Regions from separate parts of the Homo sapiens genome. Here region 1 is linked to region 2. The links come from fine-mapping of genetic effects on gene expression. A gene starts in region 2. The other region holds a variant in brackets. All regions are shown on one strand. Distances are from middle to middle. Region 1 has its middle 25 kb from the start of PCNX1. Region 2 holds the start of PCNX1 (pecanex 1).

Region 1 (16,745 bases), 26 kb before region 2:
CATTCTCCAAGTCCACATGTGATCCGATTTTTCCAGTACACTAGAGCAAGAACCCAGGCTACAGAAACCCTTTGTCCTTGTGATAGGGCAAAGGGTCTAATTGAGCTGATTAACACAAGCCACCAGCAGATGGCAAAGCTGAAAGAATATACTGTAACACACTCCCGCTGGGGCTTCGGGAGCTGCAAACCCTCAACCCTAGACTCTGCTGTGGGTCAGAGCCCAAAAATGCTCTCCATGACCCACCCGTCTGCATGCTCCCCTAGGGTTTGAGAAGTAGGGCCCTGAAGAGGCAAGCCACACCCCTGTCACATACCCTGTGAAGGTGATAAGGGAACTCCACCCATTTCACATATAGTAAACATATATGTACCATATTTTAATTATATACATTAATCATAATTTTAACTCTTAGTAACATTAATTTCCAGTGAACAATCAAGGAAGTAATCCATTTTAAACTGTTTTATATCAGTATTTGTAGATGAAAGCCATTTCCTAATTTTTAGAAAGAAATGTTTCCTCAATTTTTTATGTTTCTTCTTATTTATTTATCCATTTATTTATTTTGAGATAGAGTCTTGCTCTGTCATCCAGGCTGGAGTGCGGTGGCATGATCTCAGCTCACTGCAACTTCTGCCTCCTGGGTTCAAGCAATTCTCCTGTCTCCGCCTCCCAAGTAGCTGGAATTGCAGGCGCACACCACCATGCCCGCCTAATTTTTGTATTTTTAGTAGAGATGGCGTTTCGCCATGTTGGCCAGGTTGGTCTCAAACTCCTGACCTCAGGTGATCTGCCCGCCTTGGCCTCCCAAAGTGCTGGGATTACAGGCATGAGCCACCACGCCCAGCCAGATTTTTATGTTTCTTAATAGATCCAAATATATTTAACTTCTATATACTGTATTAAAAACAAGATGTTGAAGTATATAAACTAAAGCTATGCTTAATAATTAATGTTTCAGTATTTTATTGAATTTAAAATGAATTGAAAATAAAGTAATTTTCAATTACTTAATTTAACATGATTTTAAAATTTGAAGTTGCTGAAAAAGATTTTGGAAACTATGATAAATTTATTTATAAATTTTGATGCCATTTACATTCACCTTATTTACTCATTCTTTACAATTATGCTTGAATTACTTATTAAACAAAACTAGCCATTGAAGAAGTATAACTGCTCAACAGGTTCACATTGCCAGCTGCCTAGACAGAGCTAATTTATCAAGACAGGGGAATTAGAATGGAGAAAGAGTAATTCATGTAGAGCCGGCTGTGCGGGAGATGGAGTTTTATTATTACTCAAATCAGTCTCCTCGAGCATTTGGGAATCAGAGTTTTTAAAAATAATTTGGCGGGTAGGGGCTCGGGAAGTAGGGAGTGCTGATTGGTCAGGTTGGAGATGGAATCATAGAGGAGTCAAGTGAGTTTTCTTGCTTGTTGTCTTCTGTTCCTGGATGGGATCATAGAATTGGTGGAACCAGATTACCAGTCTGGGTGGAGTCAGTTGATCCATGGAGTGCAGGGTCTGCAAAATATCTCAAGCATTGATCTTAGGTTTTCCAATAGTTATATTTTCCCCAGGAGCAATTTTGGGAGGTTAAGAATCTTGCAGCTGGAGGCTGTGTGGTCACTAAACCACAATTTCTAATCTTGTAGCTAATTTGTTAGTCCTATAAAGGCAGACCGGTCCCCAGACAAGAAGGGTTTTTTTTTTTTTTTTTTTGGAAAAGGGCTATTATCAATTTTGTTTCAGAGTTAAACTATAAACTAAATTCCTTCTGAAGGTTAGTTCAGCCTACGCCCAGGAATGAACAAGGACAACTTAAAGGTTGAAAGCAAGATGGAGTCAGTTAGGTCTGATCTCTTTCACTGTCATAATTTCCTCAGGTATGATTTTGGCAAAGGCGGTTTCAGAAGTTCGGAAGATATGACCCCAAAATATGTTGCTTTTGTATACTATTGCTGCTAACAGGTACTCAGAGCAAGGCTTTAAAAATTCTCCTTGTTTGTCTAAAGACAGATTTTCCAAAGGAATCCAAATGCCATCAATCCTGTTGTTACAGGAAAGGGGTCCTGATCCAGACCCCAAAAGAGGGTTCTTGGATCTCGTGCAAGAAAGAATTCAGGGCAAGTCAATAAGGTGAAAGCAAGTTTATTAGGGAAACAAAGGAACAAAAGAATGGCTATTCCATAGAAATGCATGGTTTTATGGTTATTTCTTGTTTATATGCTAAACAAGGGGTGGATTATTCATGCCTCCCCTTTTTAGACCATATAGGGTAACTTCCTGATGTTGCCATGGCATTTTTAAACCGTCATGGCGCTGGTGGGAGTGTAGCAGTGAGGACAACCAGACGTCACTCTCATCACCATCTCGATTTTGGTGGGTTTTGGCCGGCTTCTTTACTGTAACCTGTTTTATCAGCAAGATCTTTATGAGTTGTACCTTGTGCCGACCTCCTATCTCATCCTGTGACTTAGAATGCCTTAACTGTCTGGGAATGCAGCCCAGTAGGTTTCAGCCTCATTTTACCCAGCCCCTATTCAAGACCTCATTTTACCCAGCCCCTATTCAGATGGAGTTGCTCTGGTTCAAATGCCTCTGACACTCTCCCCTAGGAAGTTCCAGAAACCAGGGAAGATTAACTATTATCACAGGAGAGAAGGTTTCATCACACCAAGACAGACCTTGTCACACAAACCATGATTAATTTTTCTAAGGGCCCATTCATCTTTCCCCCAAACCATTTCCTACTTCAGGCCTAAATACCACCATTTGCCCAAACCAAGGAAGGAGGGTATAGGTAAAGGTCCAGTTAAGACAAGATGACCAGGAAAAGCATCTTAAATGATAAGGCTTGTTATATAAATTTAAATCAATGCCTTTTCAATTTAAAGAGTTTCCAGGGGCTTAGCCCTCTGTCTCTTTGTGTTGCACAGAGGTAGACACCCTTACAAATAGAGATTTCTTTCACAGATGTAATTTTCTTTAATAAAAGCGTTTCAAAATAGCCAGCTAAATGCCAGAAAGGTATATTGCAAAGACTGATTTAGTTCAATAGGTAGTCTTTTTAACTTAGCTTCTGTTTCTTTTCTCTTTTTTTGAGACAGAGTCTTGCTCTGTTGCCAGGCTGGAGTGCAGTGGTGCGATCTCGGCTCAGTGCAACCTCTGCCTCCTGGGTTCAAGCAATTTCCCTGCCTCAGCCTCCCAAGTAGCTGGGACTACAGGCACATGCCACCATGCCGGGCAAATTTTTTTGTATTTTAGTAGAGACAGAGTTTCACCATGTTGGCCAGAATGGTCTCCATCTCCTGACCTCGTGATTTGCCCACCTCGGCCTCCCAAAGTGCTGGGATTACAGGCATGAGCCACGGCGCCTGGCCTAGCTTCTGTTTCTTAGCTAAATTACTGAGTTTAAAGTGGAGCTCACACCAGTTAGAATGGCAATCATTAAAAAGTCAGGAAACAACAGGTGCTGGAGAGGATGTGGAGAAATAGGAACACTTTTACACTGTTGGTGGGACTGTAAACTAGTTCAACCATTGTGGAAGACAGTGTGGCGATTCCTCAAGGATCTAGAACTAGAAATACCATTTGACCCAGCCATCCCATTACTGGGTATATACCCAAAGGATTATAAATCATGCTGCTATAAAGACACATACACACGTATGTTTATTGCAGCACTATTTACAATAGCAAAGACTTGGAACCAATCCAAATGTCCATCAATGATAGACTGGATTAAGAAAATGTGGCACATGTACACCATGGAATACTATGCAGCCATAAAAAAGGATGAGTTCATGTCCTTTGTAGGGACATGGATGAAGCTGGAAACCATCATTCTCAGCAAACTATCGCAAGGACAAAAAAAACAAACACCACATGTTCTCACTCATAGGTGGGAATTGAACAATGAGAACACTTGGACACAGGAAGGGGAACATCACACACCGGGGCCTGTTGTGGCGTGGGGGTAGGGGGGAGGGATAGCATTAGGAGATATACCTAATGTAAATGACAAGTTAATGGGTGCAGCACACCAACATGGCACATGTATACATATGTAACAAACCTGCACATTGTGCACATGTACCCTAGAACTTAAAGTATAATAATAATAATAAATAAAAATAAAAAATAAATAAATAAATATAGTGGAGCCCATTAATGAAGAGGACAGAGAAAGCGTTCTCTATGCCTGGACTCAGCATGGATAGCTTTGAAAAAGAGAAACAAGCCTACTTTACCTGAGGGCCTACCTTTTATAAGCACTTTATTCGGCTTTCTTTCCACCTTGGGGCAGGATAGTAACTAAGCCAAAATGTTAGCAGATTCTATTTCCCTTATCAATTAGTCATTTAAAATCTTTATTTGTCTTTTGTAAAGAGCCTTTAAAAGAGGCAATAAGGCCGGCGCGGTGGCTCACGCCTGTAATCCCAGCACTTTGGGAGGCCGAGGCGGGCAGATCACGAGGTCAGGAGATCAAGACCATTCTGGCTAACACGGTGAAGAAACCCCGTCTCTACCAAAAATACAAAAAATTAGCCGGGCGTGGTGGCAGGCGCCTGTAGTCCCAGCTACTCGGGAGGCTGAGGCAGGAGAATGGCGTGAACCCGGGAGGCGGAGCTTGCAGTGAGCCGAGATGGCGCCACTGCGCTCCGGCCTGGGCAACAGAGGGAGACTCTGTCTCAAAAAAAATAAAAAAAATAAAAAAATTTTAAAAAAAGAGGCAATACAAATTTTGAAATTTTTTTTAGAAGCTTCTGCACATCAATAGGCATCCCTGGTGAACCTAATTCAGGAGCCCCCATTTTTAAATGCACTTCTTAAAGTACAATGTTGTTCATTTGAATGTTCCACCATAATTTTAAATCATCTTTAGTAAGATTTCTCCATTTTTGTAAGCATTTGCTGCTTCCGGTGCCTAATACTTATATACTATACATAAAGGCAGGCATACTGGGAAAGTGGAGGACTCAGTTCTTCAAAAATTAAGGATCTCATTTTTATGTTGATTCCTGGCTTTGGCTCTAAGATCCTCTTGGCCAAGTCAGCCAATGATTTTTCCCTACCCAAGTGTGTAAGAAAAAGGAACAAAGGAGATAGAACACAAAATCTCTGCAAATTCCCAAAAGCTGGAGTTCGCACCCCCTGCACTAATTGCCATTTACCACCCGTTTCCGCCTGACCCAGCGAGACAGCTGAGGCCTCTAACTTGATCCAATCCACTTAATTATCGAATCTGATTCGATCCTGGACCGAGTCCAGTTTTTGTTGTGACTTCTGGACTGAGTCCAGTTTTTGTTGTGACTTCTGAACCGAATCCAGTTAAAAAATTTGCTCAAACTCAGATAGCTCAAAACACAAATTTGTGGCACTTCAGAATCTAAGAGCGAATTTGTCCAGGATCCCCAGTTGCTGCAAGAGAGCAGTGGACACAGTGGGCCCAGCAGGCACCTTGCTTGGTCGCTCCATCCTCCTGGGGGTCATTAGAAGCTCTACTTTGTGGGCATTTTTGGGGTTTTTTTGTTTGTTTATTTCTTGTTTTGAGACAGGGTCTCATTCTGTTGCCCAGGCTGGAGTGCAGTGGTGTAATCACGGCTCACTATAGCCTCGAACTCCTGGGCTCAGGTGATCCTCCCACCTCAGCCTCCCTAGTAGCTAGGACTACAGACACGTGCTCCCACACCCAGCTAATTTTCTACTTTGGATCCTGCTTCTGATGCCATTGGTTAAAAGAAAAGCTTTAGGCAAATTAAATTTAACACAGTTTAATTGAGTAAAGAAAGATTCTTGAATCCAACAGTCCCCAAAACACAAACAGACTCAGAGTGACTCCAGGGCTGCCACATTTATGCCACATTTATTAGGTAACATTTATGGACAGAAAAAGGAAATTGACCTGTAGAAAGCATAAGGGAGGTACAGAAACGGCTGGATTGGCTACAGCTGGGGCCTTTGCCTTATTTGAACCTGGTTTGAACAGTTGGCTGCCTGTGGTTAACTGAAATTTGGCTGCTGTGATTGGCTGAGACTCAGTTACCAGTCTGTTTATGCATCAAATTAGGTTACAGTTCACTGTGTATGGAGAAACCTTTAGGCCAGACTTAAAATATATACAGAGGCAGCTTTAGGCCAAACTTCATTTAACAGCATCTAGATAATTTTCTTCAAAAATTTTTGAATGATCCATGGCGTAGCCTCTTTCTTTTGTTCAATGTATCTATAGAGGGAAATGTTTTCACAACTCCATCATTATACTCTTAGTTTCCCCGAATAGTTTAACTGGTGGAAAGGGCAGCAATACTCAAAGCCATTAAACCAAGCAGAACTTGCACTATCAATTTCAGTCTGTTCTGAAGGTATTCATATATGGCTAAGGCTTTTTCTGCAAATGTAGAAAAGCTTACCCTGATATTAAGTTGCTAGGAAAATCATGTATGCATCAGTGTGTCTTCCGTGTTACATGGATATCACTCATATCAAAGTAACATGCATTGCTGCAAAAAGAATTGTAACTGTTATGTACTGAATTGTGTCCCCCCAAATTCATACATTGAAACCCAAGCCCACAATGCGATAGTATTTGGAGATGGGGCCTCTGGGAAGGAATTAGGTTTAGATGAGGTTACCAGATAGGTTCTTGTACGAGGCCATTCTTGTGTGGCCATAAAGAAATACATGAAGTTGTGGATAATTTATAAAGAAAAGAGGGGTATTTGGCTTATTTGGCTTACCATTCCGCAGGCTGTATAGGAAGCATGGAGCTGGCATTTGCTTCTGGTGAGGGCCTCAGGAAGTTAAAATCATGGCAGAAAGGAAGAGGAGCCGGCACATCACATGGTGGGAGTGGGAGCAAGAGAGAGGAGGACAGTGCCATACACTTTCACTTATTATTATTGTTATTATTATCATTTTGAGATGGAGTCTCGCTCTGTCACCCAGGCTGGAGTACAGTGGCGCGATCTCAGCTCACTGCAAGCTCTGCCTCCCCGGTTCAAGTGATTCTCCTGTCTCAGCCTCCTGAGTAGCTGGGACTACAGGCACCCGCCACCATCCCTGGCTAATTTTTGTATTTTTAGTAGAGACGGGGTTTCATCATATTGGCCAGGCTGGTCTTGAACTCCTGACCTTGTGATCTGCCTGCCTCGGCCTCCCAAAGTGCTGGGATTATAGGTGTGAGCCACCGCACCTAGCCTCCATCCACTTTTAAATGACCAGATATCACATGAACTCAGAGCAAGAGCTTACTTATCATCAAGGGGATGGTGCTAAGCCATTCATGAGGGATCCACCCCCATGATCCAATCACCTCCCACCAGGCCCCACATCCAACACTGAGAATCACATTTCAACAAGAGATTGGGATGGCACAAACATCCAAACCATATTAGTCCTCATAATGGGATTAGTACCCTTATGAGAGGAGATAGCAGACAGCTTGCAGTCTCTCTCTCTCTCTCTCTCTCTCTCTCTCCCTCTCTCTCTCTCTCTCTCTCTCTCTCTCTCTCTCCACCATGTGAGGACACAGAGGGAAGGCAGCCATCTACAAGCCAAGGAGAGAGTCCTTACAGGAACCTGACCGTGCTGGGACCTTGATACTCATACTTCCAGCCTCCAGACATGTCAGAAAATAAATTTTTGTTGTTTAAGCCACCCAATCCATAACATAGACTGGGTATTATGTCACCCAGTGCCATAACATGTTATGCTATGGCAGCCTAAGCTGACTTAGATAGTAACCATCATTATGTGACATAAAAGGAGCATAGTAAAGAGAGCACATAATTCTAGAAGGGGTGGAGGTTGGAGAGAAATTAAGTTGAGAAGAGGAGAACAAGATGTCAGGAAAGTCTTCCCATATGAGATACTTCTAGCAATTGAGTCTAGTCTAGAGGAACAGGCAGTTATTCTCTAAATGGTCTCTAAGAAGAGCTGGGGGCCTTAAAAACAAGGGACGTAGCAGTAATCTTTTTTATAGGCTGTGAATTGCTGTGGAACCTATAGCTTCAAACCTATTTGTTTTCCATGAACTCTATAATGATGTCATGGTCTATGCCTTCTTCATGTACAAACATCATACAGTTAACCCACCACCATGATAGCATGTACTTTCTGTTGTCGTGTTGTTTCCTAGTAAGGTGATTGATTTGCATTGCTTCAACCGGGCTCCTCTGATTGATCATTTTCTAAACAATGGATGCATTTACAGATGGTTGCCAGGTTCAGCAGAGGAGGCTGTAGCCATCAAATAGATAAAGTAGGCTCACCACATTCTGGAATTGAAACCGTGATCTTGGTTACATCAGAAGGTGCTCTAACCAATTGAACAAACCAGGCCTCGATGAAGCAACTGAGAGCTGGGGGATTCTTATGCAGAACAGAGCATTCATACTTCCGCTTCCATATGTACCACATATGTGTTCCTCTCAACTGGTTTTGTACATTTCCATTGCCTTAAATGTATTCACATAGCACTCTTTAAATACTCGAAGTATAATGAAGAAAAGAGAAGGAACTGAAATGGTTCCATTCCATTTCTCACTAGGAAGTTGATTCTGTGCACTCTATTTCTGACTATTTTCTATCAGCCTATCACTGTGGGATGTAGGAGGGAGGAACAGGACACAAAATGTGGCATAATTAAAAAAAGATGAAGAAGAAAATTAAAATCATTAACCATTAGTAATCATTTTTAATGTGCATCATTTTTAAAATTCGAGAATAACCCAAGGAGGTAGGCATAATGTTTAGACATGATTTACCAGTGAAAAGAAGCTTAGAGAAATGAAGTAACGGCTGGAAAGTCACAGCTAGAACTCAAAGTGAGAATTCCCACCCAAGAAATCTAACTCCAGATTCTACACTCCTAATCTCCGCTATGTTGCTTTCCTGAAATGAGGAAAGAATAAGAAAGGAGAAAATTAGTGACAGGAAAGAGAGAGCTGAATAAGAGGGGACAAAGAAAGGAGGAAGGAAATCAAGCAGTTTCTACACTCTGGAAAATAACGGAGCAGAATTAACAGAAGAGAACTACTTTCCTCAATGCTCATTCTACTGTTAAAAAAAAAATAAGCCAGGCAGTGCAGCACACGCCTATAATCCCAGTGACTAAGGAGGCTGATGTAGGAGGATTGCTTGAGCCCAGGAGTTTGAAGCTAACCTGGGCAACAGAGCAAGACCTTGTCTCTAAAAAAAATTTTTTTTAAGTAGCTGCATTGTCTTGTTTTTCTAACTTTGTACAGTGCTTAGAGTAACACTATCTAAACAGCATGTGTTCCATAAACCCTGTTGACTAACCGCTGGATTTGCACAAGAAACACC[G/A]GAAGACTCTTAGGCAAGAGATATATTGTAAGATCCGTGACAATGAGATCTCTTGGATGACATGTTTTTCATTGTTTACTGCGTGTCTAAAATGAGAAGGTCCTAAGAGCCAACCTTTCATTGGAGTGGCCCCCATAAAACTGTCTGCTGTGTAAGGGGTGTTGGAGTGACTCTCCATCACAGGTTCTACTGCAGCTCTAGGGTGGGTCCTGAGTGATGTGAACCCCACCCCCATCCCCGTTGCTAGTGAATGGGTCTGGGGTAGGCAGGCCAAGGCCAATTGGGACCAATGAGTCATAAAGAGTTTTCTAAACACTTCCGGAAAATATGCTTTCTTACCCTTAAGAAAGAGTCACAGGAAGTTAGTAGGAGGTGAAAAGGGAAGCAATTAACCCAGCAACTACTGGAAGCCTTCCAAAACCCAGGGATCTTTCCCCAGAATGAAGTCAGCATTGGGGATAGCACAGCAGAGAGATGCAAAGAGCCACTGGATCCACCAGTCCTGAATCCTACCCAGCCTTTGACATCCTGCATTGGAGCCAATACATTTCTTTATGATAAAAGCTAGTTTGAGGTTGAGTCAGGATTTCTGTCCCATATTTTAAAGTATCCTACTGATGCAGCCTGGTAAACATAAAACATGGTAAACACATGTGGCCTGATTTTATTGGCAGCATGGTTAACTGGTTCAAGCTATGGTTCAAGCTATTCTTTCCCTTCTGTGATTATGACCATACGCTCTCATGAAAGGTGAAGCCTTTCTCCTGCCATGGCTACCTGGCTAAAAAAGCTCAGCCAGAGTCTCAATTCCTATAACCTCCTTCCCATCCATCCATTCATCCATCCATCTATCCATCCATCCATCCATCCATCCATCCATCCATCCAGCTGATGGATTAATAAATTTATATCAAGCACTTACTCTGAGCAAGGCATTTTGCTAGGCACTGTAAGGCCATCAAAAAGGAAAAAATAGGCCGGGCGCGGTGGCTCACGCTTATAATCCCACCACTTTGGGAGGCCGAGGTGGGTGGATCACCTGAGGTCAGGAGCTCGAGACAAGCCTGACCAATATGGTGAAACCCCGTCTCTACTAAAAATACAAAAATTAGCTGGGCTTGGTGCCGTGCACCTGTAGTCCCAGCTATTCGGGAGGCTGGGGCAGGAGAATTGCTTGAACCCAGGAGGCAGTGAGCCGAGATTGTGCCACTGCACTCCAGCCTGGCGACAGAGTGACACTCTGTCTCAAAAAAGAAAAAAGAAAAAAAAAATCAGATGCTCTCTGTTCTCAGAGACCTTATAGTGTAAAAGGGGAGAAAAAATATGTATACAATTAACTACGGCAAAATGTAGAAAACTGTTAGGTGTCACTAGATACAGTGCCACAGTAGATCAATGAAAGGAAGAGACCATTTCCAGCTGGGAAGGTTAGGGCCATTTTTTGTAAAGAAGATGGATTTTATGCTAGATCTTGGATGATCCTGAACTAGCACAGAGGAAATGAGCATTCCTGGCAGAGAAGAGCAGGAGAAAAGGCCGAGCAGAAAATCACAGAGAAAGGATGGGAAACAATTGGCTGGAAAATAAGGTTGGAACTTGAAAGGGTCAGTGAGGCCAGATAGTAATAGGATATAATTCCAGGTCGAGATCTTAGTCTGTGGGCAGTAGGTTGGGTTTTGAGTCAGGTATGAGCTGAGCAATAGAATGTGGTTTTGAAAGAAAGGAAGAGTATTCAAGACAGAGCACAGCAGGAGCAGATAGAAGAACCCAGGTGGCTGGTTTCTCTGACACAGGCAGGAAACATTCTTCTGCAATGGTGAGCCAGGCTGGATGATAGGGGAGACTCTACTTATGAGGCAGGAGGGTCTAGAATGAGGGACAGTTACCCAGAGTCTGGGAGCATCAAGCCACTCCTTCATGAGTCAGGCCCAGCAAGCTTGCTTATGAGCAGTGAGATTAGAAAACCCACGGGCAGAACCATGTGGACCGACAAGAAATAGGTGAGCGCCATATGTTTCCAGGGGCCAGACAGGTGAGCATCTGAGCAAAGACAGAAGCCAAAGCGGTGCAAACCTGGAAGGACAGGAGCAAGGCAGCTCAGGAGCTGACTGGGCAGTAGTATCGAAGGCCCAGATACAGTGTCCAGGCAAAGGGCCAAGAGCCCAGTCAAGGATGACAGCTGTATTGCGGAGATAAAGCGAAGAAAGCACAGGTTTCAGAGTCAAACAGACTCAGGTTTGAATCCAAGACTATCTTATCTGCTGTGTAAACTTGGGCAAGCCACTTAACCTCTCTGAGGCTTCTGTTTCCTTGGCTAAAAAGGAACATAATAATGTCTACCTCAAAGAGTTGTTATAAGGAGTATAAATAATATATGAAGAGTGCCTGGCACTTGGAGCACTCAATAAATGAGAGCTATTGTTATTATCAATATCACCCTCATTATTTATATTGAACTATAGAGATTGCTGTGGCTCAGGCTGAGAAATAAAGCAAGTGAGAGGAGTCTTTGCCAAGAACAGAGAAACCACCAGGAGGGGGAACGGGCCTCTGCAGAATTGATCACAAAAGCTCTCTGGCTTATGTATTACTCATTTGTCACTGTTGATTTATACATTCATTCTTATACTCAGTAATGCCAACACCATTGTCACCATTGCCATCATTCCCTCCAACAAAAATAAGAAGAACCTTAGATTTCTGTTAAAACAGTTCAACAGGCTGTGTTTTGCCCCTGGCACATCTCTTCATCTTTTCTGTGGATTGAGCTGCCATTGGTATTCAGGGATACCACCTGCCCCGAGTTGCTGACAACCATCTCCATGGTTTCTGGCCAGATCTCATTAGCTAAGTGAGGTCAAGCCCAGTGAGGTTAAATACCGACAAGGGAGAGGGTCGGGGGATACACAGATGGTTACAGGCATTGGGATGGAATGGCATGGCTGACCCAGCCTTGTGTTAGGTAGAAAACCAAGGTCACAACCTTTTGCAGTCTCTGAGGAGCTGCGTGACAACATATTTAATCAGAGGATGCCAGCCACAGTGATCCTGCAAGTTTCCAACTGATACAGTTTACCTGCTCCCTCTACATTCAATTGATGCTATTACTGCCCAATCCAATAATAAGCAACAATTTATTAAGCCCTTACTGTTTGCCAGGCTAACGACAGGCCAAAATGCAGGGCTAAAGCACTTTACATACTGTCCCATTTAATCCTCACCACAACTCTATAAAGTCAGTACTATTACCTGCTCCATTTTACCGATTAATAGAAGTTCAGAGAGGTTAAGTAACTTGTCTAAGTCCGCATAGCTAGTAAAACTGTAGAGCCAGCTTGGGAACATGGGTTTTGCTGATTCCAGATCTCCAGCTCTGCATTAAAATGCTAACTGGTGCTTCTCACACTTTAATGTGTATATAAGTCACCAGGCGATTTGTTAAAATGAAGGTTTTGATTCAGTAGATCCAGATGGGACCTGAGATGCTGCATTTCTTAGGCCACATGTATGCTGTCGGGCCGTGGGTTATAATTTGAATCACAAGAGACTTGTCTGATAGATTTGGTTCACAGTGGTTGGCAGGTTTCTCTTTGAAGGAGGTTGGGTTTTGGTCTTAGGGTTAGGCTAAGAGGCTTTAAAACCATTCAGGAAGTGTGGATTTTAGTTCTATGCTGCATACTAAATCATCATAAATTTATCCCCTTAAAACAACTCCCCATTCATTACTTTACAGGTTTTCCCCCAGAACTGGGAAGGGTGTGACTCCACTGATCTCCTCACAGGGCTAAATCAAGATGTCAGCTGGGCAGTGTTCTTATCTGGAGCTCAAGGGCCTTGTGGAAGCTCATTCTGGTTGTCACAGATTCAGTTTCTTGCGGTTGGGGGACTGAGGTCCCTGTTTCCTGGCTGGCTGTCAGCTGGGGGCCACTCTCAGTTCCTAGAAACTGCCGCATTTCTTACCACTTGGTCCTTTTATCTTCATAGTCAGCAATAGAGAATCTCCCCTTTGTTGAATTCTTCTCATGCTTCAAACCTCTTTGATTTTTTTCTGTCTTTGACCTCCAGACTCAGAGTTAAAGGGCTCGTGCTATTAGATCAAGCCCACCCAGACAATCTCCCTATCTTGGGACCTTAATTACATCTGCAAAATCCCTTCACAGCAGAATCTAGGTTGCTGTTTGATTGAGTAAGTGGGAGAAGGCTCACAGATCCCAGAGGCAGGAAACCTTAGGGGCTTAGAATTCTGCCTACCACAAAGTGTTTTGGTTTTCCTGGATGAGCTGCATTGTTGATTGATCAATGTTTTTAGAGTCATCGAAATTGAGACTATATAAGCTTTCTCATTTCTGCTTTCATTTCTACTCTCTTGCTGTAAGCCTCTCCTTTGGTATGAAATTACCAACAATGATTTCAAAATAAAAATGGACTGTCAACTTCCAGCAAATTGAGCTTAGCCCTTTTTCTCATTTATTGTATAAACTGAAAGTGTAAAACAGGAATTGATACATAGATCATTTGGGGTTTTTCACTGACTCATTAGCAATGTCCAGGAATAAGTCTCCAGATGCAGAGATGTTTATAGAAGGCAGTACTTCTTACTCAAGGAACTCTAAGTGCTCACGGATGATGTGAGCCAACAGACAGTGCCTGCACTTTGAAGAAGGAGGGTTTGTGATATCTTGACGTCAAAGATCTGACTGAAATCTTTGGAATCAAGCCCATCTTTTCTGATTTCTAGCCTATTTTCCTTCCAATGGCACTGTCCTAAGGTTGTACAGCTTAGAAAATGTTAACCCAGTATTGTTTTCTTTACTTGCATGTGAGAGAAGAGAAGTCAAAGTCAAAAGCAGGCAGCTGGAAACCTCCAGGGGAAGGGATTCCCAGGGGTCCTTTATATTCCTTTCTCCCCAAGCAAAGCAGAGAGAGAAGCAGCACACATACCCTGTGGATTCTGGGTTTGGAAAGCATAGTTGTGTTGTTCATCTGGGCTGCTATAACAAAATACTATACACTGAATGGCTCATAAACCACAGAAATGTATTTCTCACAGTTCTGGTGGCTTGGAAGTCCAAAATCAAGGTGCCAGCAGATTTTGTGTCTGGTGAGAGCCTGTTACCTGGTTCATAGATGGCTGTCTTCACATGGCAGAAGGGACAAAGGACCTCTCTGGGATCTCTTTTAAAAGGGTGCTAATCCCATACATGAGGGCTACATCTCATCGCCTCCCAAAAGTCTCACCTCCAAATACCATCATGAGGAGAATTAGGTTTCAACATATAAATCTGGGGAGGACAGACATTCAGTCTATTGCAGGGGCCAACAACAGCCCCTCATCAAGAGGTGGCGCTACGGAGGACAATATAGCTGGCCCTCCATATCCACAGGTTCTGTATATACAGACTCAACCAACTGAGGGTGAAAAACACTAAAAAAATAATAATAATACACAATAAAAATAAAAATAATACAGTGTAACACATATTTACATAGCATTTACATTGTATTAGATATTATAAGTAATCTAAAGATGATTTAAACTATGGGAGGATGTGCATAGGTTACATACAAGTACTACATCATTTTATATTAGGGACTTAAGCATCCCCCAGATTTTGGTATCCTGGAGTCCTGGAAGCAATTTCTCCCCACCCCCCACAACTAGGGATGAAGGATGACTGTACTAATGATTCTGTTTCTTTGCAATTCTCCTTAGTACCTCCAAAGCTCTAGCAAGATCATCACACAGGAAACAACATCATTTTCTTAGCCCACTCACAGCACAGAGAACAATGAAGTAATGGCTGTAGACAAATCCAAGTGTCTGTTGCAACCTCAGGGTGAGGAGAGAAAATTGGTAGTGGTGTTGCTTCCTTTAGAGCTTAAAAGGCACAGCTGAGGTGACTACCCTTCACTCCATTTTTGCTAGCATATAATAAGCTCTGCTTTGCATTTTTGCTCCCATGGCATCATTTTTGAAATATGAATCATAAAAGCAGTGCATTTCTGCTATGCCTGCTGAGACTTGCTTTATCACCCTCCTATTTCAGCGTTAATAAAATGATGCTGTCATTCCAGCTGGGAGGTATTTTGATTTTTCCAGACAGAGAGCTGGCTGATCACATTGTGAGTGTGTGTGTGTGTGCATACTTGTGTGCATGTGCCTCCCTTCTGGGGCTGAGAAGGAAATTGTCTTACCTTAATAATAGATAAATGTATTTTGATGGTAGCTGATTACTAAGTTGAGACTTTCTGTAAAATCTTCTAGCATCATGGTAATTTACTAACAGACAAAGAAAATCCCTCAATAAAGGCATCATTAGCAAAAATCCTGTGCCACTAGCTTCTAAATAGATGCGTAAAGGTAGGGTAGTAGAGACCAGGAGTAAAATAAGAAGGTTGGAGTAAATGACCTCTAAGGGCCACTTTTATTTAAAGAAAATTCCAAGCATAACATTGGAAGACCTAGAGATGATGCTAAATGCCTGAAAAGGGAGAATATAAATTTAGGAAGGTAGTAAAAATTTTCTCAATGATAAAGGAACTTATGACTATGGGTATTTGCACGTGTATGTGTCTGCTGTGTCTTTAATATTGAGGGGAATTCTTTTTCTTAAATCTGAGAATGATGGCTTAGTTGATGGCAAAATGGAAAGGATGCGGGGACCAGCCAGGAGCCCAGGAGCAAGGCAGGCGTTTCCAGAAGATCTTGGCAGAAAGAGGCAGACCAAAGAAGCAGACTGGCCAGCCAGTGCCAGGTAGGGTGTGAGATTAACTACAGGTGGGTGGAGCACAGCCCACGCACTACAGAGGTCTGGGCAGTCATGAAATCCAAAGGGGCTGCTCAGGATAGTGGGTAGCAGGGACTGCACCTTCGAGGGTGAGGTTCAGAGGCAGGATTTGGGTTTCTTTTTTTTTTTTAAAGGATTAGCAAGAGAAAGCGCACAATCTAGAACAAATGAGATATCAACAAGAGTCACTGAAAAGGGACCTACGGACAGGCTGTTAGGGACTTGATCTTCAGGAATAAGACTGGCTACTAGAATCAAAGAAAAGGTTTGTGTAGGTCCAGTAGCAAGGCTGATTTGATGCTATCATGCTGAGAAACTCATACTCTGCTTTTCATTTTTGCGTTTTTAGTACCTCTAAAGCTTTTTACATTCTCCCCAACTATAGAGATACTCTAGGGCCTAAGTTGATCCTAGCCGGGCTAATCACCAAATCACAGAATTTGGCAGATGATTTCAAGAAGTTTAAAATGAGTCCCGTCCTCAAAGTGTTTATAATCTATTTGAGAAGAAAAGGTCAGCACACATGAGACAGAAATATGTCTACTGTGTCCATTTACTGTGTTATGTACAAGTCATAGGTATTAAGAAAAATAAAAATTAGTAAGTGCTGGAGAGGTCAAG
Region 2 (16,745 bases):
CAGTGGCTCAGGCCTGTAATCCCAGTACTTTGGGAGGCCAAGGTGGCCAGATCATTTGAGGTCAGGAGTTTGAGACCAGGCTGGCCAACATGGTGAAACCCTGATTCTACTAAAATTAGCTGGGTGTGGTGGTGCCTGCCTGTAACCCCAGCTACTCGAGAGGCTGAGGCACAAGAATGGCTTGAACCCAGGAGGCGGAGATTGAGGGGTCTGACACTGCACTCCAGCCTGGGTGACAGGGTGAGACTGTGTCTCAAAAGAAAAAAAAAAAAGGATAACATGTGCATAATGTAAAATTCATTAAGAGAAAAGATATACAATCAAAAGTAAGGTCTCTCACCCCTGTGGCAATTCCTGCTGCCATTTTCTCACATGTTCTGCTAGGGACATTCAGTACACAGATAATCACATAAAATACATTCTTTTCTCTTATGACAAGTGCTGTTATATACTTTTTTCCACATATATATATATATATATATATATATATTTTTTTTTTTTTTTTTTTTTTTTTGAGACAGGATCTCACTTTGTCACCCAGGCTTGGGTGCAGTGGCATGATCTCAGCTCACTGCAGTCTGGACCTCTTGGGCTCACATGATCCTTGCACCTCAGCCACCCAGGTAGCTGGGACTGCAGGCATGCACCATGACACCCAGCTAATTTTTTGTATTTTTTTTTTTTTGGTAGGGATGTGGTTTCACCATGTTGTCCAGGCTGGTCTTGAACTCCTGAGCTCAAGCGATCTGCCTGCCTCAGCCTCCCAGAGTGCTAGGATTACAGGCGTGAGCCACGGCACCCAGCCACTTCACCATATATTTTAAAGATCAATCCTTATTAGTTCATTAAAAGATACTTCAGTATTCTATTGGCTGCTTGGAATTCTATCTTTTAATATCAAAAGATAGAAAACAATAGATGTTTATACTAATTCTTTATTTCAGAGATACCCAACACTGAGGGAGTTTTTCAGTACCCTATGTATAAAGCACCATAACTTAGATTATATGTTTGTTTCTTTGTTTTTGGAGATATTGTCTCATTATGTTGCCTCGGCTGGTCTCACCTTCCTGGGCTCAAGTGATCATGCCGTCTCAACCTCCCAAGTAGCTGGAATATCAGCGTGCACCATGGCACCTGGCTCTAGGATTATGTTTTTTTTTTTTTTTTTTTTTGAGATGGAGTCTTGCTCTGTCACCCAGGCTGGAGTGCAGTGGCACGATCTCGGCTCACTGCAAGCTCCGCCTCCTGGGTTCATGCCATTCTCCTGCCTCAGTCTCCCGAGTAGCTGGGACTACAGGCATGTGCCACTATGCCCAGCTAATTTTTTGTATTTTTAATAGAGATGGGGTTTCACCGTGTTAGCCAGGATAGTCTCAATCTCCTGACCTCGTGATCCGCCCGTCTTGGCCTCCCAAAGTGCTGGGATTACAGGCGTGAGCCACCGCACCTGGCTGGGATTCTGTGTTTAATAGAAGATTTTGACTTGGGGTCATTCATGGACTATATACACATTGAGAAACACTTGTCATAGGACCTAAAAATATAATGAGTTTACAGGAAGGAAATGTTGAGAGAAACGGAGCAAGAAAACTGGAGGAACAGGGAGGTTTTACTTTGTGTCCTGATCTTTACTGATTTGAGAGATTTTATACTGATATGTATCACCCTCCTATGATGTATATACAAAACATATTATTTGTACATAATTAGAAAATACTTATGTATATTAACAGCCACTGAATCCTGGTGACAGTAGGTGAGGCAAAACAAAACAAAAACCCAGCTAAAAATCAAAAACCCCAAACAGACAAAAAAAAAAACTAATAAGAAATATGTTCCCATGTGCTGTCAAGGTTTCCATAAAGAAAGCAGTGAAAAATCTCCAAGGGAAAGATCTTTTTATGATGTCATTGGAATGTTATTTTTGTCATTAGAAAAAAGCTCCAGCCATCAAAATGAAATGCAATGAGTCTGCAACCTTGAATTCCCCAGGACTCTTCAATTCTGCTCGGATTCCTTGACTAGGGGCTAGGACTAATTTAGAAAGTAGCAGAAGGTGGATTAAAACACAGATTCATCTGATTCCAGCCCCCAGGCCCTTTCCATTATGAACACCACCTTCTCACCAAGGAATGTTCCTGGTGTTCCTTGCCAGAGGAGCCAGACATCTGGCCTCCAAAGGTGACAACTCTCACTTCTACTTAGCTACAGGGAGGCGCTCTGGATGACACTGGTAGCTACTAATACAGGGGGTGAACTCTTCAGAGAATCATCCAGCCACATCAGTTGGCCTAGTAGGTCCTGTTGGAATTATGCTACCCCAGCTGAAATAGAAAGATAAACAAGGCTGGGAGCACTGGCTCACGCCTATAATCCCACCACCTTGAGAGGCTGAGGCAGGCAGATCACTTGAGGTCAGGAGTTTGAGGCCACCCTGGCCAACATGGTGAAACCCCGTCTCCACCAAAAAATACAAAAATTAGCTGGGCGTAGTGGTGCTCTCCTGTAGTCCCAGCTACTCAGGAGTCTGAGACGTGAGAATCATTTGAACCCAGGAGGCGGAGGTTGCAGAGTTGAGATCGCGCCACTGCACTCCAGCCTAGGTGACGGAGTGAGAACCTGTCTCAAAAAAAAAAAAAAAAAGATAAACAAGCTCTTTCATATGATATAGTGAAGCACATTAGACATCAGACTGACATAGAAGAATCTTTTAATGTCAAAAGATGAAAAACAATTCATGTGTATATTATTTTTAATTTAGGGATTCACAATATCTGGGGAGTTTCGCAGTATCTTGCATGCTTTCCCTTTCCTTTCATTGCCCTGCTCCCAAAGTGTGGTAAGTTTAAGAAAAGTGAATTGGTTTTTTGAGACATGACAGAAGACACTCTCAGGATGACACAAAACCATAACAAGAATTACTAAAGTAGTTGGTGTCACTAAAAACATATTTTAAATTACTCATATGGAGTTGACATTTAAAAAAAGGAGATTGGGTTGAGATTTCCAAGAAGAATCATCTCCTAGTTAGTAAGAAAGTCTTTTATTTTCACTTGTTTAGCTTCATATCCAGATGATGGTATTTTATAATTATATTATGTGAGATTTGGGAAGTTTCCATTTGATATTTATTTTCCTGATGTGATCTAAAGCAGTACACAGCAAATGGCTAAAAGAGATCCACAGAAGAATTCTGGGGCACTTCTTTTTTTTCTTTTCTTTCCTTTTTTTTTTTTTTTTTTTTTGTGACAGGGTCTAAGTCTGTCACTGAAGCTGGAGTGTGCAATCACAGCTCACTGCATCCTTGACCTCCCAGGCTCAGGTGATCCTCCTGCTTTAGCATCCTGCGTAGCTGAGACCACAAGCTTGCGCCACCATGCCCAGCTAATTTTTGTATTTTTTGTAGAGATGGGGTTTCGCCATGTTGCCCAGGCTGGTCTCGTACTCCTGGGCTCAAGTGATCTTCTCAGCTAGGCTTTCCAAAGTGTTGGGATTATAGGTGTGAGTCACCACGCCCAGCCTTCTCTTCCAAATTCTCTTCACCTTCATTTCATATTATTTTTTCCTTCCTTGAACTGCTATTCTAAGCTGGTGAAATGCTTTGAAATGTTGAAGAATTACCAAATGAATGATGAAACAGATTAGGCCGGGCACGGTAGCTCACGCCTATAATCCTAGCACTTTGGGAGGCCGAGGCGGGTGGATCACCTGAGGTCAGAAGTTCAAGACCAGCCTAGTCAACATGGTGAAACCCTGTCTCTACTAAAAATACAAAAATTAGCTGGGCGTGGTGGCGCGTGCCTGTAATCCCAGCTATTCAGGAGGCTGAGGCAGGAGAATCGCTTGAACCCGGGAAGTGGAGGTTGCAGTGAGTCGAGATTGCGCCATTGCACTCCAGCCTGGGCAACAAGAGCAAGACTCCATCTCAAAAAAAAAAAAAAGAAAAGAAAAAAAGAAAAAACAGATTAAAATCTCTAATTGGAAAGCCATTGGTTTCTGTGCTTTGTTTAATCAATGTATATGAACTGAGTGTTAATTGATGCTAACAGCTTTCTCTGCTAGGCCCTGTGGAACATGCTGAGAAGTGCCTTGCCCTCAAGGAATGTACAGTTTAGATGGAGGGATTTGAAGTAGCACATAATTAAACGCTAAATGAGTGGAACATGTGAGTGCTCTAGGCTGTTCAAAAAATAGAAGAATGGGTTTGGAGTAGACGTAGTGGATTTTAGCAGGCAGGTGGAGGGGTAATGTTTTCTAAGTAAGGCAAATGGTGTCAGTAAAAGCACAGAGGCAGAAATTAATAAATGAGTGGGCTGATAAACATAAATAGTTATACTGATATTCACCAATAAAAAGGGTTCATGCTGGGGAGTAGCGGCAGTTAAGTTGGAGAAAATAGTGATTCAGGTTGCTGGGGTCTTTGCCCGGCTAAGGAGTATCCCTTTAGTCCTGAAGGGAATTAAAGGCTTTTAAGAAAAGTGGATTAGGGAGATTAATTTGTTAGTGGAAGGTAGAATGGTTTAGAAGAGGAGAAATTGGTGGTAATAGCAGACTGCTGGGTACGACTTGATGAGGGGATTCTCCAGAACGGTTGATCTGGCAACGTAAGGGAAGGGTTGAGCAGGAGAAAGCCTGTGGAGACTAGACACTGGGGAAGGATATATGAGGTTCCAAGTCTGAGTGAGCTGGAAAATGTTGGTTTCACGAAGACAAAGAAGAGGCGCAGGACTGGGGGAAGACATGGATACTTACTGCGTCTGGATCATTGGCAGGACATGTGGGCCATAATGTCTAAAACAGATAATTGCCACACAAAAATGGATCAGAGCTGCAGTTTGCATGACTCTGCTCCAAGGTGGGCTTGGGTGGGGTTATTAGATTTCGTACATTCAGCTTTGTCCTTTTCAGGCAGGAGACAGCATCTGCTGTCGAGTACTCTCAGTCCCCAGGAGGCCTATGAGCTAGTCAGAAAATATAATTTTAATAGGATTAGCTGAGAGATGAGCAAATGTCAAATGGTGATTTGGTAGTATGTCATGGCTGCTAACTTTGACATGCTAAGTGTAACATTATTAATGGCTTCTATGCATGGCTAAGAGGGTTAACACTTAGCAAAATTAGTTCCCTGGATTTTTGTCCTGCTGTTATATTTTATGGGCATGATGGAGTGTGCTACCTTGAGTAAACCATTTAACCTCTCTCTGCCTTAGCTTCTAGTTTATAAAATAGGAAGCTTGTTGTGGCAGGCAGTATTCACAAACATTTTGAGAGCTACAGAGAGCGCTGTAGGATTGTCTTTCTCCCCGCCCCCTCATTCCCCCCCATCCACCCCGTCCCAATGACTGAGTCAGTCATTTGGAAAGGTCAGCTTTTTCACTGGATACTCTCAATTGCTACTCCCTAAGTCAGTTAATTAGTATTTTTCTAAAATGCTCCTACCAGTCCAGAGCTGAAAGATGTAGTCTCTAACTGCTGTTTCTACTCTCTGGGCCTGCCAATCCTGCTAACCCCTTTTCACCCAATGGCTATTGCCATGTGACTCACACCTCAGGTTCTGGGATCAATCCCAGTCATTTTGGAGGGCAACTAGAGCTTTATATTAACACTCTGGGACTTCAACATAAGGCAACCATGCTCAGTGTGAAGTTTGGTCCTAGTTCTAGGTATTAGGCTCCTGCTTTGTTTGTAAGTCTCACTCTGTCCCCCCAGATCCAGCCTTTGAATATTTGTTTTGTCCTGCTGGGTCCTCAAACTTGGGCCTCCAGTGAGTATCTCAGTAGCTCAAGGATCTGAGTTCTATTTGTTTTCATCAATTCCCTGTAGAAACGAAAGGGCAGACCTAGAAAACCCCAGCACTGAAGCTGGGGCCTTGCTATAAGCAACACACTTTCTCAAGGCTTGCCGTGATTTCCCAATTTTTGCCCACTCCTGGATTTTCCAAGGCTATGTGTTCCAGCTGTCCATTGGCTTACAACACCCACATTCTCTGTTTAACAGGCCTGATGCCGGCTGCCTTCCTGGCCTGCTGCCGGTTCCATATCCTCCAGATACTGCATTCTGGCTGAACGTTTATCACGCCAGCTGGGTTGGCCTCCGATTCCACGGATGTATCTGGTTCTAGTTTCCATTTCTCCCCATCCACCTCACCCTCATTACAGTTAATCCTTTTATATTAAACCATAGCGGATCTTTGCTGTTGTGGAAACTGATGTGGTATTGGAATTTTATCCTTGTTTACATCTTTCTTTGTGTTGGAAAGGTTGGGATTACTTCCAAAACCTTCCCAGAGAGCTTTCCTGTCTCCTTTAGGGGAAACAAATGAAAACTTGACAATAGCTGGTATCTATGACACCAGCTTCAAGGCCACTATTTTAATTGTAAAATTGCATTATTTAATCATAATTTTGCTTTTAGATATACAAATATATTTTAAAGTATATTTTGTCCAGTGTTTACTCACAGCTCTCAATTTCAAGGTATCTTACTGGAACTCAGTGGCTTTGTGGTTATAAGGACATAAACAAATCAAGGCTAGGGATGGTGTGGTGTTCTACAGTGGTAAGCTACATTAGAATCCTCCGGAGGACTTGTTAAAACAGATTGCTGGGTACCACCCCACAGAGTGTCTATAGAATGATGCCCTAAGAATTTGCACTTTGACGAAAACTGGTCATGTATTTAAGCTGGTCACAGATAACCAGAAGGTGCTGAACTGTTCTTAATCAATTCAAACTTTTACCTGAAATGGATAATAAGGTGGAGAGCCTTGAGAAATGAACTTCCAAAGTTCAGTGCATGCAGTTAGCATGACTGCTGGTTTTAGAGTTCTCAACCACTTATTGCTTATGAGCAATAAGTGGCCATAAGCATTTGGCCAATCACTTACTTGAGTTTACAGGTTTTCTCATCCATAAAATAACAATAGCTGCTATGCTGCCCTCAAAGGGTTGTCCTGAGGTCTGAATGGAATGGGTGTGATAGTGTCTGAGCAACTATAAAGTGGTATGGCACTGGGAGGTATTGTAACGGTTTTTCATTACTCTTCTTAAAATATCACCAGTTTCCTTTGGCTCTTGTTTCCCTCATTAATTATAGCAACTGTAATCTGGGAATACACAGTACTTTTATTGCCATAAAAGCCAAACTTCAATAAACTCAAATTTCAAACTTTTCTATAAAATTTTATTCAGTGAGATCAGACACGCCTTATAAACATTACACAGAGCCAAGAATGATTCCGTTTTTACAGCTATAAAAAGAGATCTACAAGACCCTATTGTAATTTGGGGTGGCGTCACGGTTAATCTTTTTCAACCCTGTTTAGATTGGCCCATTAATAAAAATGGCTGCTAGTTACAGCACATTTAAAAATACAATCACCGCGTACAAATGGTAACCTGTCCACTCCATACTTCCATGTCCTGTGCCGCTTCTATTAACTTGTCTTTGGAAGTAGTAAATTCTCCCAGTCTGGACGTGGCTATTTTTTCTCACACACGGGCCAACACAGTTCTTGCTCAACTTGGGTGCGTTTATGACTTTTCAACAGTGTCATCAGCCGTACCTAACTCTTCCAGGCCTTCAGTATCTCAGGTGTTAGCTTCAGTTGTTCCTAGGTCTTTCACAAATATCATAAATGACAGGCAGGACGCTTTTCTGGAGTCAAGATCTGTTAGTTTCGGAGTCAGAAAGACCCCGTTTAGAGACTCGTAGGCGAACTTGCCAGGGGGCCTACCAGGGGCAGAATGGGGTCCTCCGGACCAGCCAGCCGCGTCTCAGCCACCTCCGCAGCCCCCGGGGCCCTGAACCCCGGCCGCGTTGACGCGCGCTTCTCCCGGACGTCGGCAGGAGGCGCCCGCGGCGGACCAGGCGCGGCGCGCACCGTAGCCGGCCCAGGGGGCGGAGGGAGCGGAGAGGAGGAGCTGGAGGGGGCGCGGCTTCCTCTCGGTCGCTCCCTGGCGCCGGGCCTCTTTCTCTGCCTGGCCCAGGGCTGGCGGCCGGCGGGGGTCGCGGCGGCGGCAGTGGGGGCGCTGGCGGGCCGCGGGTGGCGGGGGCCGGGCCGCGGCTCCGGGTGTTAGGAGACAAGATGGCGGCGGCTCTCAGAAGGCCGGTCTCCTCCTCTCCGCCGTCCTCCGCCCCGCCGCTCGCCGCCTCCTCCTCTCGGGTCTCCTCCTCCTCGTTTGCTGCCTCCTCCTCCTCCTGCAGCAGCACCAGCGACCGCCGAAGCGCCGGCTCGCTCACCCGGAGCTCCGGAGGTGGATAGACGGGGCAGCTGCAGGCTCCGGCGACCGAGGCCGAGCTGGGGCCGGGGCGGGGACGGCGGCGGCGGCGGCGGCGACGGCGGCGGCGCCGGGTGGGGATGGGGTCGCAGACGCTGCAGATCCTCCGACAGGGGGTGTGGGCCGCGCTCAGCGGGGGCTGGTACTACGACCCGCACCAGGCCACCTTCGTGAACGCGCTGCACCTCTACCTGTGGCTCTTTCTGCTGGGCCTGCCCTTCACCCTCTACATGGTGAGTGTGGGGGCGGGGAGCGGGTGGCTCCTTCCCCGCGAGCCGGTGGGGAGATGCTGGGGTCGCGCCCTCTTCCTCTTCCACGGGGTCTCGTCCCCCGGGGGCCGCCACCCTCTCGGTGTGAGGCTCCCCGCCCCCACTGCGTGCTCCCACTCCTCTCTTCGGGGCTTTCCTGGTTTCGGAGGTGACACGAGCAACGAGCCCACGGCAACCCGCGCCGGCCGCCCCCGCCCGCTCACTGGGAAGCGGCAGCGTCCTAGGCCCCTTCTCGGGGTTCCCTCCTGCGGCCACTCGGCTAGGCCGTCCCCGCCGGGGCCCCCCGCCCGTGGGGCTGTGTGGCAGGCGCCGAGCGCTCTGCGGCTTTAGGGGACGCCGCATCCATCCTTGGCACGCTGGGTTCCTCGGGCGCCCGGCATCCGGCACTGCCCGCCCCCGCCGCGGCCCTCGTCCGGGGCTCCCGGGAGAGGCCGCCCGCCGCCTCGCCGCTAATCCGCGTGCGGAGCCCCGGGAGCGCGGGGGACCGTGCGGCTCTGCTCCGAGTGTGTGTGGGGGTCGTCCGGGCTCGTCCTCCAGGGGTCCTGGGTGGTGGCTGAAAACCCGGCTCGGAACCCTCCTGCCTCTAAAAAACCGTTGTTGTGCTTCGCAGCGGTTCTTCTCTGTTCGGCCCCGTGGCCGGTGGCCGTGGTGCTTCCTGGCCTCCCTGGGGGGAGGGAGCGGGGAGATAACGGGGAATCTGGCTGGCATTTCAGCAGATTTGTTTGGCTTGGTTCAAGGCCTTTGGCGGATAGGAGTAGGGAGAGAGAGTACTGCCTGTTGCTGAATTCGGTGCGATCAGCTTCTCTGAATCATCTGTGTTTTTAAAGCAACATTGAAAGTTGTTAAGCGCAGTTTCTAAAGCACAGGTTAGGGTGGGGCGTTAGGGAAACTCGTGTGGACAGAGATGTTACTTAAGGCTTCATATAAAATTTTAAAGTAGTCAGAGGGGAGGAAAGGATCTGAACTTTTTATTTTAGGAGAATTCCTTTGAATGTATTTCTGCTAACTTTGAGGTTCTTTGTGGAGCTAGAGACAGGGTGCTGAGTTAGAAAATCCCGGAGGACCACTATGAGAAGTGCAAAAGGTGAGGACACCCAATTCTTCCCTAAGTGAAGTTCAGTTTCACTAATTGGCAGGAAAAGTGTCTGCTTGAGGGAAGATGTGCACATTCTCAAGCAGATTCACATTTTTCGTTGAAATTGTTTTGAAGGGACTTATTGTTTGAGGTTAAAAAAAAAAGCCATTAAGAAATGCTGATGGCTTGTGGCTTGTTTTATTAGGGGGACTTGTTCAGTCTTGTTGCATTCTGAAAATTTATCGTGAAGTATTATAATTTTCAATTAATTTTGGCCTAGGGAGTTCTATTTGCACTACTATACCTTCCAGGAATATGACATCATTAATGAACGGGTTAATTACTTTGGGTTTAAGAATCCTCAGGCTGTCACAAAATTTTCAAAGCAAATTTCTTCTATGTCCAGAAGAATTGTAGATTTAAAACTGAAAATGATTTTTGAGAGGTAAGGATTAGTTGCTGGGTCCAGTGTAAGATTTCTTTTTTAACACTTGTAGTAAACTGTGTGGTCATGGTTAAGTCTCTTTGTGTAGTTAGCAAATGTTACTGAAAGAATATTAGAGCAAATGGAAACCAGGACATTGAGTTTACTTCCTTCATTTTGGGAGTTCAGTTAAACTGAATTCTCACATATTTGAGTGTCTACCATGTACTAGACACTTTCTGAGATTGCTTCTGACTTCCTTATCTCAATTAATGGCAGTCCCACTCTTCCCAAACCAGAAGGTGCTGAGCTGTTCTTAATCAGTTCAGACCTTTACCTGAAATGGATAATAAGATGGAGAGCCTTGAGAAATGAACTTCCAAAGTTCAGTACATGCGGTTAGCATGACTGCTGGTTTTAGAGTTCTCAGCCACTTATTGCTTATGAGCAATAGGGGCTGTATCTTCAAAACCTAACTAGACGACGACTCCTCCCTCCTCCTCCTCCTCCTCCTCCTCCTCCTCCCCCTCCTCCTCCTCCTCCTCCTCCTCCTCCTCCCCCTCCTCCTCCCCCTCCTCCTCCTCCCCCTCCTCCTCCTCCCCCTCCCCCTCCTCCCCCTCCTCCTCCTCCTCCTCCTCCTCCTCCTCCTCCTCCTCCTCCTCCTCCTCGTCCTCCTCCTCCTCCTCCTCCTCTCACCAGCACCATCATCATCACGGCCATCAGGCCATCATCATTCCCTTGGTTCGTCACCATTCTCTCTCCTGGATTATTGCAGTACTTTAATGAGGTTCAATGCTTTTGTTCTTTATTCTCCACACAGACGCCTCTGTGATTCTTTCAGATCATGTCATTCTTCTGCTCTCAGGGCCTGCCCTCTCCTGTGTCTCTCTTGTCTCAACCACACACACATTTGCCGCCTTACTCTTCTTGCCAAGAAGTATGTTCCTGCTTCAGCGCCTTTGTGCTTGCTTTTCCCTCTGTCTGGATGACTCCTCTTTTCCAGATACCTGTGTGGCTGCTCCACTTTTTGCAGGTTCTCATATACGTGAGGCTTTCTCTGATAGCCTATGTGAAATAGCAACTTCCCCAGCTCTCACAAGACTCCATAGCCCACCTTTTAAAATAGTATGGTATTTATTCCTAACTGATATCTATTTATTTGTTTTTATGTCTTTCTTATCTTATTAGAATATAAGCTCTGAGAGGGCAGGAACTTAGTTTCGTTCACTGCTGTATTTTTAGGACCTAGATTAGTGTAAAGCACATGTAGTACTCCGATGAATGATTGAGAAGTGCACAAGACACAGCTTCTGCTTTCAAGGAACTTAAAATCTAGCCTGGGGGTAATGAGTTGTTACTGTTAGAACTGCTAGGAAAGGGTAAGTAAAGAGGGACCCTGATCTTATAGTCAGGGGATGAACCCTAGACCAGGGGTGGTCAGGACAGAGAATTTGTAAACATTTTAGGAAACATACTAGTAAAAGGTAGATAGTTTGAAGTATACACCAAAAATAAAGCAAAATCCAACATTTTGTGTTAAAATCTCAGACAGCCATAGGTTATTATTTGCATGCTCTTACAATAATAACTGTAAGTGATAATGACTGTTTTAAAAGTACATGTATAGGTTCTTTAACCCCGTGACCTCATGAGGTTTTGCTGTTAGTAGGCAAGTTGTGAGCTGGGATTTACACAGAGCTTTCTGAAGGCAAAGTCACTGTACAGGCTGCCTTTTATTTATTCCCCCCCAAAAAGTGCCTAAATCTGTGGAGAGATCGTACATTAAGTTAGGAAACAGTCTTAGGACTTTATAGGATTCAAACACTTTTGGTGTTTATTTAGGAGCATTTGTGGATACTTTGAAAGGTGGACTCTATATACATCAACTAGTTAAAAATCTTTTAAGTAGTGAAAATGAAGAAAAAATTTTTGTTTCTTAATTCTGATTGTCCTGTCTGTTTCCTTTAAGGTACTCATTCTTTTTTATCTAGTTACAGTGATTTTTGTACATGTCACAGATGATGAGATTTTTGGGGGTGAGTGGCATTTTTGTATGGTGGAAAGCAGATTGGAATTAGTGTCTTGATTTTTGAATCTTGGCTTTGTTATTGATTGTGTGTCCTGTGGGCAAGACTCCACCTTTCTGAACCTTGATTTACTCATTTGTGAGATATTTCATGGGTGTTTTTCAAGAAAATATTTATGAAATAGAAGAAATTATTTACCTTCAGAATGGCCTTCAGTAAATGTCATTTGAAAAAATGGCTAATTGGAAGTGTTTCCTCTATAATGCTGTATGACTGTAGGAGACTAAATAGCTCTGGATTATTAAGTCAAATCATTTTCATAACATATTGCTCAATATATTGTTTTCCTCTGTAAAGCAATATATCCCTAGGTGATGAAATAGAACATTAAAATTTATGGCTGGGCGCGGTGGCTCACGCACTTTGGGAGGCCGAGGCAGGCAGATCATCACGAGGTCAGGAGATCCAGACCATCCTGGCTAACACGGTGAAACCCCGTCTCTACTAAAAAAACAAAAAATTAGCCGGGCATGGTGGCGGGCGCCTGTAGTCCCAGCTACTCGGGAGGCTGAGGCAGGAGACTGTTGTGAACCTGGGAGGCAGAGCTTGCAGTGAGCCAAGATTGTGCCACTGCACTCCAGCCTGGGCGACAGAGCGAGACTCTGTCTCAAAAAAAAAAAGAAAAAAGAAAAAAAAGAACGTTAAAATTTATTACGTAAGTGGTTCCCAGACTCCTCCAGTTGACATCAGAATCACTTGACAATGTTAATGATGTGCAAGCCCTTTCTTATTCGGTAGATCTGGAGTGTGGCCTATTGATTTGTATTTTATAAACATTCTAGGTAAGTTTAAATAACTTGATCAATATTCCTAACTACCAGCCCCTGACTGACATCCAGCTGCTACTCAACGTACCTCTTGGCTGTCTCACAGGCATCCCAAAAGTATCATGCCCAAAAGCTTCTGAATTCCCCCCTAAACAACACTGCCACAAAATGTTTTTCCTCACTCTGTCATGTTAGTTAATGGCACTGTCTGTATCTAGTTGCTTATCCCCCACCCCTTGCTTTTGAGCAAATCTTACCACTTTCTGCTCAGAGGAAAAGACATAAATCTGTGTCATTCTTTTAAATATTCTTTAAAGATTTTCTTTGGCACTTAGAAAAAAATCCAGAATCTTTATTAAGCCACCAGAGCTTATTCTGCCTTTGTTTACAGTTTGTGCAGTTTTCCCACTGTGCTGTAGTCACACTGGCCTTTCTGTTACTTTAGCCCACTGAGCCTTTTCCTCCTGTGAGACCTTTGCACGTGTTGTGCCTTCTGAAAGGATACTCTTCCTTCTTGCTCTTTGCAAGGCTGGCTGCTACTTAATCTTTAGGGCTGGACTTCAGTATTATCCCCTCACAGAGGCTGAGCCTGATAACCATAAATAGGTTCCCTCTCTTTTTTTTCATCATTCCATTCCATAACTTTCTTCCATAGCACTTAACACAAACATATATTTTTTGTTTGTTTACTTGTTTGTCCTCTCGATCATCCTCCACTTCCATACCTTGTAAGTTCCATGAGGGCAGGGGCCAGGTCTGATTTACTCATCAGTGTTTATCAAGTGTCTGCATGACTGCCTGGCTCATATTAGGATCTGAAGAAGTATTTGTTGAATGAATTTTTTATTATACATGTGAAGCTTTTTTAGACTTGTTAACTGATGTAGAATAGTTGGAGGTGGAGGGAGGATTGTGGTAGGCTGTATCATATGGTGGAGCTGCTTACTTAGGGGTTAGGTTCGGTGTCAGTCTCTACAAGACAAAAATCAAATATAAAATTACTGAAAAATCAAATACAAAATGACCCTTGAAAAACACTTAAGTCATTGAAAGTGCAGTACGTATGGCTTTTTGTGCATACAGCTGTGTGGTTATACATACATACATGATATATACAGTAATATATACCACATAAATCTGTGGAGAGATTATATTCAGACTCTAAATCATTAACAAAATTTATAAAGGTTTCAACATTTTCTTCCTAGTTGTCTTCATTGTTTTCTGTAACTGATCTTTGTCATCTTTAGAATGATATATCTTTTATTAGTGAGGATTACGCTAAAGCTCTCAGGTCATTTTCTTTCCCCCAATTTAAAAGTATTTAAAGATCATTTTAAACAAGATTTAGTTAGGGTGACTAAAACAGGGATTTTCATATTTTAAAATTTATATTTCTCTAAAAGTTTAGATCAAGCTAGAAAAGTTACTGTGCTATAAATTAGCAATTTATATTGCTATTGCATATTGTACATATGATTTTTAAGTATTATTTTCTGCATCCTTTAGGGGAAGGTTAATGACTAGTGGATGGCCTGTTTAGATCTATTAGCCTGTGCCCTTTACCAGTATTTTCAATATTTAGGATCAAAGTGAGTCTAATTATTTCCATAACTGGTCATGGCACAGATATAACTCTTATGTATTATATTACCTATAATAAATTAAGGGTACACTGTCCAAAGATGGTTTACACAGAAAACCATCTACCACATGTTCTCACTTATAAGTGGGAGTTAAACATTTGGATACCCACAGATACAAAGAAGGGAACAATAAATACTGGGGATTCCAAAAGCGGGTAGGGGGCGAGGGTTGAAAAGCTATACATTGGCTACTGTGTTCACTACTTGGGTGACAGGATCATTAGAAGCCAAACCTCAGCATCACTTAATATGCCTATGTGACAAACCTGCACATGTACCTTGCTGAATCTAAAGGAAAAGAAAATTAGACCTCCAAGAAAGCAGCCATATTTGTCAATTTGTAGAAAAGTGTATTAATTTACAAAAAAAGCAGTTGATTTATAAAATGTTCTGTCTTTTGTGACGTAAAGGTGGAGTGTTTTCTCCCACTTGAAAATTACTCCAAATCATAAAATCATTTGGTGATTGGAAAACTAGGAAAGTTTCTATTTTTTTTCTAGCCTTTGAATACACAGATTCAGTCAGGTAATTTGCTTTCTCTAGCTGACTTTACTGAGAGTTAAATCTTTCAACATTTTATTAAAGAATTTTCAAACATATAGGAAAGTTGAGAAAATTGTACCCACCACCTGGATTCTGTGTTTTTAAATATTGTGTCTCTATCTGTTTTATTCCTCTATCTGTCCACCCTTTTTTAGGGAGATGCATGTAAATTAAGTTACACTTCTATACAAATCACCCCTAAACTCTTCAGCAGGTGCATTGTCAGGTAGGTTCTAAAGGCACAATCTTCAGTGAACCATTCGATGAGTTTTGATAAATGCACACGTTTGCGTAGTGTAGACTTGGCATGTTGTAGAATATCAGCGTCACTCCAGATAGTTTCTGCTTGACCTTCTGAGTCAGTCCTCTCATCCTTGTTCTGACTTTTTTTCATTATAAATTAGGTTATCCTGTTCTAGAATTTCATATAAATGGAATCATGTAGCACATGCTTTGTGTAAGCCACCTTCACTCAGCATAACGTGGTTGAGATTAATCCATGGTGTTGTATCAGTAGCTTTTTTCCTTTTTATTGCTGAGTAATATTCCTTTGTATGACTGTGCTACAGTTTGCTCACCTTTATCCATTCCCGTGTAGATGAGCAGCTAGGCTCTTCCCAGTTTTTGGCTACTATATGTAAAGATGCCAACATGAGGATAGGTTTTATCAGAACTCAAAGACACTGGAAAACTTTACGGAATCTCAAAACCCTTTTCTCTTTCCAAATAAGACCATGTTTTAATTTAAAAATCTTTTTGTTCAGCTGTTCTGATTTATTTGTCTAAATCAGAAATTATAGATAAGTAAAAAGAAAATACAGCCATTGGTAATTCCATCACCCCTGTCTGTAGAACATTTTAGTAACCAAAATATATTTGGAGTTTTAAATACTACTTTGATTACAAAAATGGGCTCATAGAATTCATACTGTTTTCAAGTCTCCTATTTTCACTTTAAATTATGAGTGTTTCCATGGGTTGGGGGTAAGTGGCTTTTTAATAGCTCTGCAGTAGATCATATGTGTTACAGTTTAATCATTTACCTCTTACTGGTTATGTAAGTCATTTCCAGGTTTTAGCTATTTAGAAAACAGTAGGGTGAATACTCTTGTAGTTAAATATTTGTACTAGTATTTTGTATAAATTCCTAAAAATAGACTTGTTGGATTATCTTCTTTGATAAATACTCATTTTACAAATACTGAGTGAATCTTTATATTGAGAGAGAATATAAATATGAGAATGAGAAATGGGTAGATAATGCAGGGTTCCTGGAATACAAAATAGGATTGTGGTCCAGAAAGCACATGTGTTAAAGGATTATCCTCAGAGCAGGAAGGAAGGAGGCAAGGATGAAGGGATAAAGGATGAAGGATGAAGGGATAAATCATGGAGGAAGGGATAAACAGTTCATGGGAAAAGTTGAGGTTCATCTTTTATGATTTATGTAATCTCCTTAGAGGACAAAGTGAGTGTGTTCTGTTGAGAGTGAAAGAGGAGGTGAAGAGGATATTTAAGGTTTGAGGGAGATCCCCCAAATGTGACATGCTATTCTTACTTTTGGTAAGTGGAAAAGTGAACTATCAAGGGATGGTAGGATTGTTGAACAATTTTGAAGGTATCTTTGAGATTGGAGAACATGAATTCAGAGT

What was found.
Region 1: its variant is fine-mapped to the expression of PCNX1 in whole blood (INTERVAL, PIP above 0.99).

What each region holds. Positions count from the first base shown.
Region 1 is chr14:70,873,641-70,890,385 of GRCh38, forward strand. No RefSeq gene overlaps it. Among named protein-coding and RNA genes, the nearest start is that of PCNX1, 25 kb to the right of the region's middle. RefSeq lists an enhancer at 13,664-13,973. The variant G/A (reference allele first, on the strand shown) is at 9,337.
Region 2 is chr14:70,899,489-70,916,233 of GRCh38, forward strand. It overlaps PCNX1 (pecanex 1), which reads left to right and starts at 7,971. Exons shown (of 36, transcript NM_014982.3): 1 at 7,971-8,515. The coding sequence starts at 8,363. RefSeq lists silencers at 7,874-8,063, 8,284-8,623, 8,784-9,123.